2 separate regions of the Homo sapiens genome follow, and region 1 is linked to region 2. Evidence: fine-mapped expression QTL. A gene starts in region 2. The other region holds a variant in brackets. All regions are shown on one strand. Distances are from middle to middle.

Evidence for each region. PIP is the estimated chance that this variant, and not a neighbour inherited with it, causes the effect.
Region 1: its variant is fine-mapped to the expression of PTTG1 in whole blood (TOPMed, PIP 0.96).

Annotation. Positions count from the first base shown.
Region 1 is chr5:160,465,455-160,470,954 of GRCh38, reverse strand. It overlaps MIR3142HG (MIR3142 host gene), which reads right to left and starts at 2,704. Exons shown (of 2, transcript NR_132748.1): 1 at 2,515-2,704. RefSeq lists enhancers at 2,600-2,759, 2,790-3,019, 2,487-3,123, 3,124-3,760. The variant T/C (reference allele first, on the strand shown) is at 3,115.
Region 2 is chr5:160,419,305-160,424,537 of GRCh38, reverse strand. PTTG1 (PTTG1 regulator of sister chromatid separation, securin) reads right to left here and starts at 2,683. Exons shown (of 6, transcript NM_004219.4): 1 at 2,647-2,683; 2 at 2,135-2,236; 3 at 1,645-1,829; 4 at 208-301. The coding sequence starts at 2,225. RefSeq lists enhancers at 1,878-2,434, 5,046-5,115, 5,126-5,233 and silencers at 2,529-2,688, 2,789-2,848.

The sequences.
Region 1 (5,500 bases), 46 kb before region 2:
GAACTGATATGGGTGACATTTCCTCCAGCAGTGGGGGCAGCTGATAATGACGACTGTAGGCCAGATGAGTGCTGATTGCTACACACCAAGATTACCCCAAAATGGAGGCAGTGCATGACTCCCTCCAGTACCCCAAGAGACAAAGCTAGAGAAAATACTCAGCTCCGCATCCAAAACTCTGAAATTAACTTCCCCTGAGATGTGCAGAGTTTTATGCTCAAACTTCCAAAAAATATTAAAAATTCAAGATAGTCATTTTTCTCAGCATGAACTTGTGCACTCTTTTTTTTGTATATATACACCATGATTCAGCAATGAACTTGTGTTCTTATCTCCAACAAGGAATGTATCTAAATAGTCATATCTTTAAGGATATGAGTTTTTAGCGGAGTCAGGAACCTAGGAAAGAACTATACAAAGAGGTAGACAGCCCTCAGCCACCCCTTTGATGGTGTATCCATGCATTTGCATTGTCCTATTATCTTTTCTTAGAGAATCAAAAGACCTTTCTAAGATCTTGGAGAAAGAGTAACAAATAGTATGTAAGATATTATATCAGAGTCAGTCTGGAATGGGAAAAATCAGATGTGAGTCCCTACTGGAAAGTGGAGCCTTAAATCAATCACTTGATCTCTTTGAGTTTCAATTTCCTTAGCAGTCAAATGGATTTAATTCATTCATTTAACAAATATTTAATAAGTTCCCATTATGTGCTAATTCTACTGTTTCTACCAACCTTACAAATTTTATGAAAGAATTACATGAAATGACAAAAATGCTTTACAAAGTGTAAGTCATAAAAATAATTCATGTTATTGTTAAAAATAGAAGATTTTCTCTTGTTATTAAATAAGACTAAAGCCCAGAACAAAATAAGAAATGTTTGCCAGATTGTAGAACAACCAGAAGGAGGAATCCCCATTGCAGTTCAAAAATTGCCCAAAAGCTGGCTTTTAGGGACCACACCCAAGACTATAGATTGCTGACAGCCACAGAAAACAAATATTTACTACAAGTTGAGCCCAAAGGCCTCCACTGAGAACCTAAAACTACACAGAACTGAAGAAGTGCATGCGTCTGATTCCCGCAGGGCCTTTGGAGAAAGTGGGACTCTAGGAATTCAGAGATGAGAAGAGGGCCCAGGAATGCATCACCAGGAGCCATCCAGTCAGCTCCTCCCCGCATCCCAGGCCTGGCCTCACAGAATCCTGAAGATGAAACATCACCCACTCCACAAGCTAACAGTCCAACAACTCCAAACAACCGGCACGACCCCCAGAGTCCACCTTCTCTCTCTCAAAGAGCTTCTTGTATGGCTGCTTATCTGTTCCAAGGAGTACCATGCATAAGGACAGCAGTATGATTTTAAAAACAACAAATAAAGAGAAGCCAGTTCTGTCCAAAAACCCATTGTTAATAACGGGGATAAAGTGTCAGTAAAGCGCTACACTCAGAAGGGTTTGGGGCAAAATCAAAGCAGAACCAGGGCACACAAATAAAATAAAGGACACTGCACTTTGGGAGGCCGAAGCGGGCGGATCACCTGAGGTCAGGAGTTCAAGACCAGCCTGGCCAACGTGGCGAAACCCTGTCTCTACTAAAAATACAAAAATTAGCCAGGCATTGTGGCGCGCATCTGTAATCCCAGCTACTCTCGAGGCTGAGGCACAAGAATTGCTTGGACCCAGGAGGCGGAGGTTGCAGTGAGCCGAGATCTTACCACTGCCCTCCAGCCCGGGCGACAGGCCGGGAGCAAGACTCCATCTCAAAAAGAAAAAGAAAAAAAAGAAAGAAAGGACACTGAATGTGAAGGTCTCAAATGACAAGAAAATACCGTAATACAATAATTAAACCCATTGAGGCATCAAGAAAGAAAAGTGACACTGTTTGCCAATTAGTATACAAGTCAGGTTCAGTATGTAAAAGATTCTTTTTAAAAAAATAGAAAATTTAAAAAAAATTCTTACTATCCAAAGACAAGATTGAAATTGAGAATAGGAACACAATAAACAAAAAGTAATAGCCATAGTCTTCCAACCCTGAAACCTCCTAAGAGCACCATATTTACTGTCCAATATTTTCATGCTATTGTCACTGCAAGAAAGTTTATGACTTGCTAAATAGAGACCACAGTCTACAACTCCAGGTTTAAAGCATATTATTTTATCATCCATAGAGATTCTAAACCACTTCCTGACCCCACTCTATCCCCCCCCACCCTGAAAATAACAAAAGGTTAAAAATATGTCCCTTTTGAAAATGGAGCCACATCTTTACTAAAGCACTGGAAATATCTCCAAGTCACTGACATTTTTATATTTCTAGACCATGACAAAAGTCTCACCTACTTGATTCTAATGTCATTTCAATATGCCTTAAACATCTTGATTATATCTTTAATGTGCCATTTACTCTGCAATAATCCACTGTACAAAAGCCTGCTGCCTCTCAAACAGAAGATAAGTACATAATAAATCAGCTTGCAATGATTATTTTTTCCCAGCTCATACTCACAGCGAGCTCCTAAAATTTCATTTTATTTTATCATTTCCAATTCAGCCGCTGTTCTCCCCCTCCTCGTTGTGCTACTGTCTCCTGTCCATCCTGTCCACCCTTTGGCATGCCTTCCGGCCCAGGGTTTACCACTCCAATCGGCCCTGCTGGTGCCATCCAGGAAAGGAAGAGCGGTCAAGCGTCTTGGAGAAAGAGCATCTTTCTGGAGAGACTCTTATTTGCTGGGGTAGAGGAAGGCAGCTAAGGCCTATTTGCATATGCTTTTATTCCATTTCCACACCCTGCACGCTAACCCTCTCTGGAAAGTCCCTTCTAGATCCCTCCTCGGCACAGCGAGGGAGGAAGAGGCTGGGCCGGAATGGAAGGTTCCAGCCTGGCAGTGTCAGCTTCTCTCCGCGGAGCTGAGGGGGAAGCCTCCACCTTCCCCATCATGCGTGCAGGGTCTGGACCCCCGGGTCGGGGACCCTCTTGCAGCACGTGTCAGGAGCAGCCTGGTGCTTTGGCCTGCGCGCTCTAGAGCGTTCTGTGCAGGATGCGCCTGCTCCCCTGCAGCCTCCCCCGAGGAAGTTCTGGTCAGGCGCTGGGTCCCCAGGCTTCCTG[T/C]CTGTACTCTCCGCAGCCCCGCGGGGAAATCCCGAGAGCTTTATCGGCTGCCCAATGAGCCTGTTGGCTTTTCAAGTGCGCGCAGGCTGAGTTTCAGCCAAAACCTCAATTTAAACGTTAACCAAAAATAAATAAATAACATGTGTGCAGGCATTTAAAAAGAGAGACTGCCTTTGGGGAGAAGATCAGGCAGAAAGCTCCCTTGTTTCATTGCTGCAGATACACGAGGCCTGGATTTGCTCACCCTTTGAACAAAGGGATTCTTTGAACTGTAAACTGACCTGGCAGGCGGAACACTGAGAAATCTTCCTGAGCACCTTTCTCTGGAAATGTGAACATTCAAGGCAGTCTTGTGTGTCAGCTAAAGAGAACAGTCATAGCTAAATTTTAATGGGCACCTACTAGGCACCAGGCACTCTGCTAAATGTATCACGTGCATCATCTTCCCTAATCCCACAGCAATCATCCATAGCAGGTAGCCCGAATTATTATCTCCATTTTGTGATCCCCTTTTACTCATAAGGGAATTTTATCTTTGGTGAGGTTAGGGGGACTTGCCTAAGGTCACACAATTAGTAAGTGTTTCCATGGGTGCCCTTAGCTGCTCCTTTTCCCAAACTGGAAAGAACGTACAAGGCCTTTGGAATGTGCAACTGCAAATTCAAATTCCCAGTCGAGAAAATATAGCTTCCTTTCCTTGGTCACGTGCTCATGGACCGAAAAAGACCAGCTCAAAGGATTTTGCTTCCAGGCAGATGTAGTCACTTTCCTGACCTCCCCTGAAGGTTTTTGTTGCTTATCTTGCTGAGCTCCCAAAAGGTTTGTTTGAACGTCTACTATAGATAACGTTTTTAAAAGCAAATATTTATTGAGCAATTGTTATACACCAGACACTGTTCATAAAAACATGTTCTTATTTAATACTCCTAAGAACCCTAAAAAGCAGATACTATTCTTAGATTAGAAATGAGGAAACCGAGGTTCCAAGAGAGTCGAAACTTGCCAGAGTTCACATAGCTAGAAAATATCAGAGCCAGGATTTGAATTGAGGTTTCCTGTCCCCAAATCTCTGAACCTGGTACACTGCATTACTCTGCCTCTCAAGGGGTCCACATCAAAACTATTTCCTTGTGTGAGATTCTCTCCCATTGGAAGGGAGTTCCTTGGGGGTTTGGGGTGGACCCAGGTATCTGAGTGGGCTCTGGGCATACCTTCAAGCACTCCAGCATCTGCTGAAACCGGGTGGGTTGATGGAAGGGAGGAAGCATAAGGGTGACCAGAAGAGTTAAGGGCACTCTTAACACATCCCATGTTGTATTAAGGAGTAAGCAACCTATTTGTGAAGTTTTTATAAAAGGTTAAAAGCTGCCTAATTCAGTTAGCGACAATTCTGTTTAAAGAAATCCAAAATTATTTGGATCCATGAACTGGGGGCTAGACTCAAATGGAATAAACAGAAGGAACTCAACCCTTGCTGGTTTCTGCTAACAAGTACATTATCCCGTTCCAGTCAGTTAACTCGACTTCGGCATTCCTAAGGGCTCCTTTGTGACACCTGGGGGTCATTAGTATAGTTTTCCAGAAACAGGAAAGTGGATGCTTGGAGCCAGAATTTAAGTAGCTATATGCTATCAGCTGCAAGCACCTCCATCTGCTGCCTTTTGCCTCGGGAGGAATAAACTCTAAAATCTTGAGGCAGGTTTTCAGGGATGATATATGAATTCAGCCTCATCCTTTTACAACCAAAATACGTGTCATTTTTGTTTCATTTTGTTGGGGGGTAGGGTGGAGGAGAGCTTAAACATCATTTATATAACTTATATTACATGCCAGGGAAAGTGCTATGCACTTTACCACCATTATCTCACTTAATGCTGATAAGATGGGTATTCGTCTCTATTTCACAGACAAAAATCCAGAAGACAGACACTCACAGAAATTAAATAAATTCCTAGAGTTAAAAGTCAGTAAAGAAGCCCTGGCACGGTGGCTCACGCCTGTAATCCCAGCACTTTGGGAGGCCGAGGCAGGCGGATCACCTGAGGTCAGGAGTTTGAGACCAGCCTGGCCAATATGGTGAAATCTCGTCTCTACTAAAATTATAAAAATTAGCCGGGTGTGGTGGTGGGTGCCTGTAATCCCAGCTACTCAGGAGGCTGAGGCAGGAGAATCGCTTGAACCTGGGAGGGGGAGGTTGCAGTGAGCCGAGACAGCACCACTGTACTCCAGCCTGGGTGACCACAGCGAGACTCCATCTCAAAAAAAAAAAGATGCTGGAAAGAGAGGAATTGTGTGGAAGGAATGTGAATCTTCTTTGCTGACAAGAGCACTGTCTTATCTGGTTTGGAGTCCCAGTCCAACTAAGTGTTATGCTACATTTCTCATA
Region 2 (5,233 bases):
TACATCTTTGTTCCTATTCCCCTCCTGACCTAAGATGATACCTTGCAAATAATTCCATCAACAAGTACACTTGTCCAAAGCAACCCAGATTCAGACAGTCTCATCATAGTTTTTGGTCATATATTATATTCATAACAAGTTACAGCTGAGCTGAATACTAAGAAACTAAAGGCCAAAAGCACTTTTCGCAATTGCAAAAGATACTACCTAGAGGATTGAAGGGAAAGAATTTTTCTATTTCTGGATAGGCATCATCTGAGGCAGGAACAGAGCTTTTTGCTTTAACAGTCTTCTCAGTCATCTAGAACAGCCAAAGAAAATATGGGTTAGTGACAGTGGAAGTCTTATTAGCTGATTAGTTTTTAAATTTGTCAATTTCATGCTGCCTTCTAAGAAGCCATAATCCTTAGTTTTCATAATTGCACCTAAATATACTTCAAATAATATGATTCAAATGTAATTCGAGTAGCATGACTCAAAAGTTAAAATCTGAAATTTAAGTACCAGCACCTGTCAGCATAAGTGATCAAGAATGCAGTTAATTCAGAGCTAATCAATGCAATTATTCAACCTAACAGAGGAGAAAATGGGCATGAATCACCCAGGATAGTAGCTAATCATCAAAGCCATTTTTGGCTTATAGGAGTGTGATTTTTTCCACAAGTGTTACCTTAAATTATTTGCTTGGTTAATATTAAAAACAAGTTTGTGTTCCTCAAATACACACACTGAGTAAGAGGCAGCAAGACACTGTCAAGGACTTTAGAATAAACACCATGGGCAATCTTCTAGTCTGGAGTTGACAGGTCTACTACAGTCTACTATAGAAGGGTGCTACAATGGAAGCCGGCATGTTCCTGCTTTATCTCACCTCACATATGCATGCCTAGAATTCCCTATGGGGTTCTCACACTTCGGTTCTGTGTCTCATTGTTTTTGCCATGTCTTTGCAATTCCTGTATTTAATATTTTTCTTTAAGTTAATTCACTTTTTAAAGAAGACATCTTTGTCCTAAGTTGCACTATATGTAATTCACTAGTTGTTTCCTAATGCAAATTAAACAAAACAGTTATTCAAATAAAGTGTTAATCCACATGCTAATGTCATCTTTCACAGCAAAGTCCTCTCATCTGGGATACACAGACCTGTAGCTTGTGACTCACACTCACACGAAGATCAACATGCTAGCAAATTGTCACCTAACAAGCTGCTGCTTGCCCTGGAAGGCTAAGAGAATGGCAGCACCTGTGCTATTAAAGCAGCAACAGAACCTCTTAAGGCACCCTCTCTCTCAGTATGTATCTGTAAGTGGATACCACCAACCAGTTTCTCTTAAGGCACCCTCTCTCTCAGTATGTATCTGTAAGTAGACACCACCAACCAGTTTCACGACACTAGTGAAGGACAGGTGAGGCAAAAATATGCATGAGGCAAAAATATGCATTAGCTGCATCTGAGATTTCCAATCTCAAGGTACCAAGAAGTCCACAAGGACAATCTGAGTCTCCTCCACTACTCTGCTTGCTAACCTCTATTTCCCTTCTACTCAGAGGGAAGAAAGCTACGTAGGATGATGCCAATAGTCATTTTAAGAGTCAAAAGTGCTTAAGTGTTTAAACAGTGTCTTTATAGCCAACACTTACCTTTTTGGCAGAAAAGCTTGGCTGTTTTTGTTTGAGGGGTCCCTTGGTCTTTACAGACTTTTCTGTAGCTCTGTTGACAGTTCCCAAAGCCTTTCTAGTAGCTTTAGGTAAGGCTGGTGGGGCATCGAACGTTTTGCCAAAACGTGGTGTTGAAACTTGAGATCTCCCATCTAAGGCTTTGATTGCTGAAGAAAAAGTCTTACCATAAGAATATTCCAGCAGCAAAATACCTGTACAACTTAAATACTGTGTATATAAACTTGACCTCTCACCCCCAAACCCACCCCCCACTTTTGGTAGTGGCATGGCTATGATAGGCCTAATAGCAGAGATTCAGTAACTTCCTTAAATCATCTCATTAAGATATTAAAAATGAAAAAGGACCAATAACAAACGACTCCAATTGCCCAAAAAGTACACTAAATGTCTCGTCCAGCTCCAGGCCACGTCCACAATACCAGTGTATCCGACTGCAGCCTTGTATACTTACAAGGTCCAGACCCCAGCTTCAGCCCATCCTTAGCAACCACACGGGTGCCTGGTTCTCCATTTTCCTTATCAACATAGATCAGAGTAGCCATTCTGGATTATTCTAAGAATGAGAAATACATATTAGATATTGGGGAAGGTGGGAGAAGCAAAGGTATAGCAACATACCAAACTTTCTATCCTAGGAGTGTCCACACAAAAAACAAGAGCTAAACAGCGGAACAGTCACGGGCGTGAGCCAACAAGTACTTAATCCAGCTCTCAAATCTTCCAGCCTGAGTCAGAGGCTCTAAGGTCCCGAGCAGCGCGCGGTTTGGGGCTGGCACTCATCAGACAGTTGCCGTTGGTCCAGTTAGCAGTCCGAGACCACGCTCAAACGGGCTCGGAGCCATCTAAGCCCCGGGCAGTCCCCCAACCCCAGCCCCAGCTTCAGCCCCAGCCGCAGCCGCAGCCCGCCTCCTTCCCCGCCGGAGCCGGCTCAACTAACCACCCGCGACCCTCCCATTCACTCACGCAGGTCTTAACAGCCGCATTCATCTGAGGCCGCGGTGAACGGACGCGGCGCACTCCTGGTTTAAACCACAACTCGCGGCCCAATTGGCTCTTCCGCCCAGGAGGCGGGGCCGTGGGCGTGGTCACCAAGTAGAACCAATGGAAAGGACCTAAGCAGCCAGGGCTCCGCCCCAAAAGCTCTTTCTTGCAAACTTTGTGGCACGTTTTCTGGGAAGAAAAAACTAGGATCGTGTAATATTAAAAAATAAATCGAGAGGCTTTTTTTTTTTGCTCTCCATATTATTAAGCTGCATGGACTGAGGTACTGACTCAATAACAATGGTTTATTGCTTTAAGATATTTTTATTTAGATGACCCTGTAAAAAGGATGGAAAATAAATAGAAATATTGAAGAAATAGGGGAAACAACCAATGTTGGGTCTAAAGAATACTAGCAGAGAAGAATTTAAAATTAAGAAGAAATGTAAGTACAGGTAGATCAAACAGCAGCGTTTGAGTCATTCTCTTATGCTTATGATTAAGAACGAACTGATCGTTCCCTAATCTTAGGACTATCCTCAATACTTCAGGCTAAGACACTGTTTCTATTATACCATCACGAATCTGTCTTAGGAACAAAATTATGATTCTAATGAATACATAATTTAGTCTTCCCTTAAAATTCTATCCTTTGATAGTGATTTATTTTAAACCTCTAACATCTCAATAATATATTAACCAAAGTTGCCTGGAAGGGCTTGGCCAGGGAGCAAGAGAATATCAGAGAGATAATAAAGATATAAAAAAGGAATTCCAATTTCCCAGATATGAAAAGAAATTTTGCTTGAAAAAGTTGACGACCTTTTCCTGTTTCTATAGTAAAATGGAATACATTGAACAACTACAAGATGAAGATATAAATTAAAACATAAGGCTGACCTGTGTCATTCAAACTCCGCTTCCCACAGTTCACCATATATGCATTTTAAGCTGCAGATCAGCTGAGAGAGAGGAGTTGATTCCATATTACTCTTTCACGAAAGGCTTGACACTATACCTGACATAGACATGGTTCTCAATATATGCCAGTTCATCATCTCTTTTTCCCTGGCATTTCAGGACCAATATTGATTGAATGATTCATTCATTCACAAATATTTATTGAATACCTATTAAATGCTGGACATTATACTAGGTTATAAGAAAAGAGCCTAACTTAAGGTGAAGAAAAGAGGAAAGACAGAAAAATATGCATACCTTTATTGTCCCTTCACTGTTCTTTTTCCTTTATCCCCATCCTTTATTTCCTCCTGTATCTCCTAAATTTTACATCATCATATTATATTATCAGCACTCAAAGTGTTAATTTTTAAGACTAAATCTGCACAACACCTATAGCTTCCAAGTGGGGATTCTCTATCTACAGAGGTTTTGAGGTGCAAGGTTTGTCTTAGGATGTCTTCTTTTTTTCACCAACAGAAAGCATTGTTTCTCCTAAGGTCATGCAGCAGCTGTAAACCATAACCACCCTCTCTGAATAACCACTGTTTTCTTACTAATGATGCCCTCAGACCAGCTTTGCTATTCCTATTACTGGAAATACTCAATTGCTAAACCACCCTCACTCATAACAGCACTTAGTCCCTAATCAGTTTCTCCCAATCCTTCTTTACAAACAGCAACCCATCCAGAACCAATCCCGGCTTTCCTAGACCTTCCTCAGAACCCTCCAGAGGGACCTCAAGTCTTAGAAAAGATTCAACTGTCTTGTCCTGCGCTTTCTGATTCCTCTTCGAGATGCGCTCTCCTGGTGGTTTTGGCTAATTAGGCCTTAACACTCCTAAGCAAATTTCAGGAATATTTTTAAGTGGAAAAAAACAAAGCCTGAGTGATTCATAGACTCTATTCACTTTCACGCTAGTCTCTGACACTGTTTCTTCATCTACTGCCCTGTAAAAGCAAAATTAATATTTATGTTCCTAAACTCCAGGTATTGCAAATTCTTAATACGAAAAAAATAGATTCTATTATGTTGGGCTATTTTATTGAGGCAGGAATGGTAGCTACTTTTACTTTTACATTCAAAAAGGATACACGTTATGGGGGGGAGGGGGAGAACAACCAGAATAGAAAGCACAAAGAAAAAAAAAAATCACAAGAAATTCTACCACGAAAATTAGTTTATTTTCCAGTGTTTTATTTCACATGTATACTTTTAAAGAAGGGATGGGATAGCATAGATACTGTTTCTCCAAAATGGAAATTGTCGTATTTTTTTCTAATGATAACATGCCTTATGTTCTCACAGCACCTGGTATTCTTTTCATAGCAACTTTTCACAGCTGCTAAATCTGAATAGTTGTTTCGGTGTCTTTCGCACTCTGATGTAAATCTGAGGGAAGACACTGTTCACCAAATCCCCAGCATGTTACACAGCCTGGCTACTAATTAGTGCCAAGTTTAACTGCTTTTTTTTTTTTTTTAAGCTGATACGTCACCAACTTCCCCATTCATTTCATAGTCCCCTGGTGAGGCTTAAGCTCTTGTCTGTTCTGGTCTTTTTTTTTTTTTTTTAACTTCCTAAAATTCTCCGATTCTAAAAGAAAGC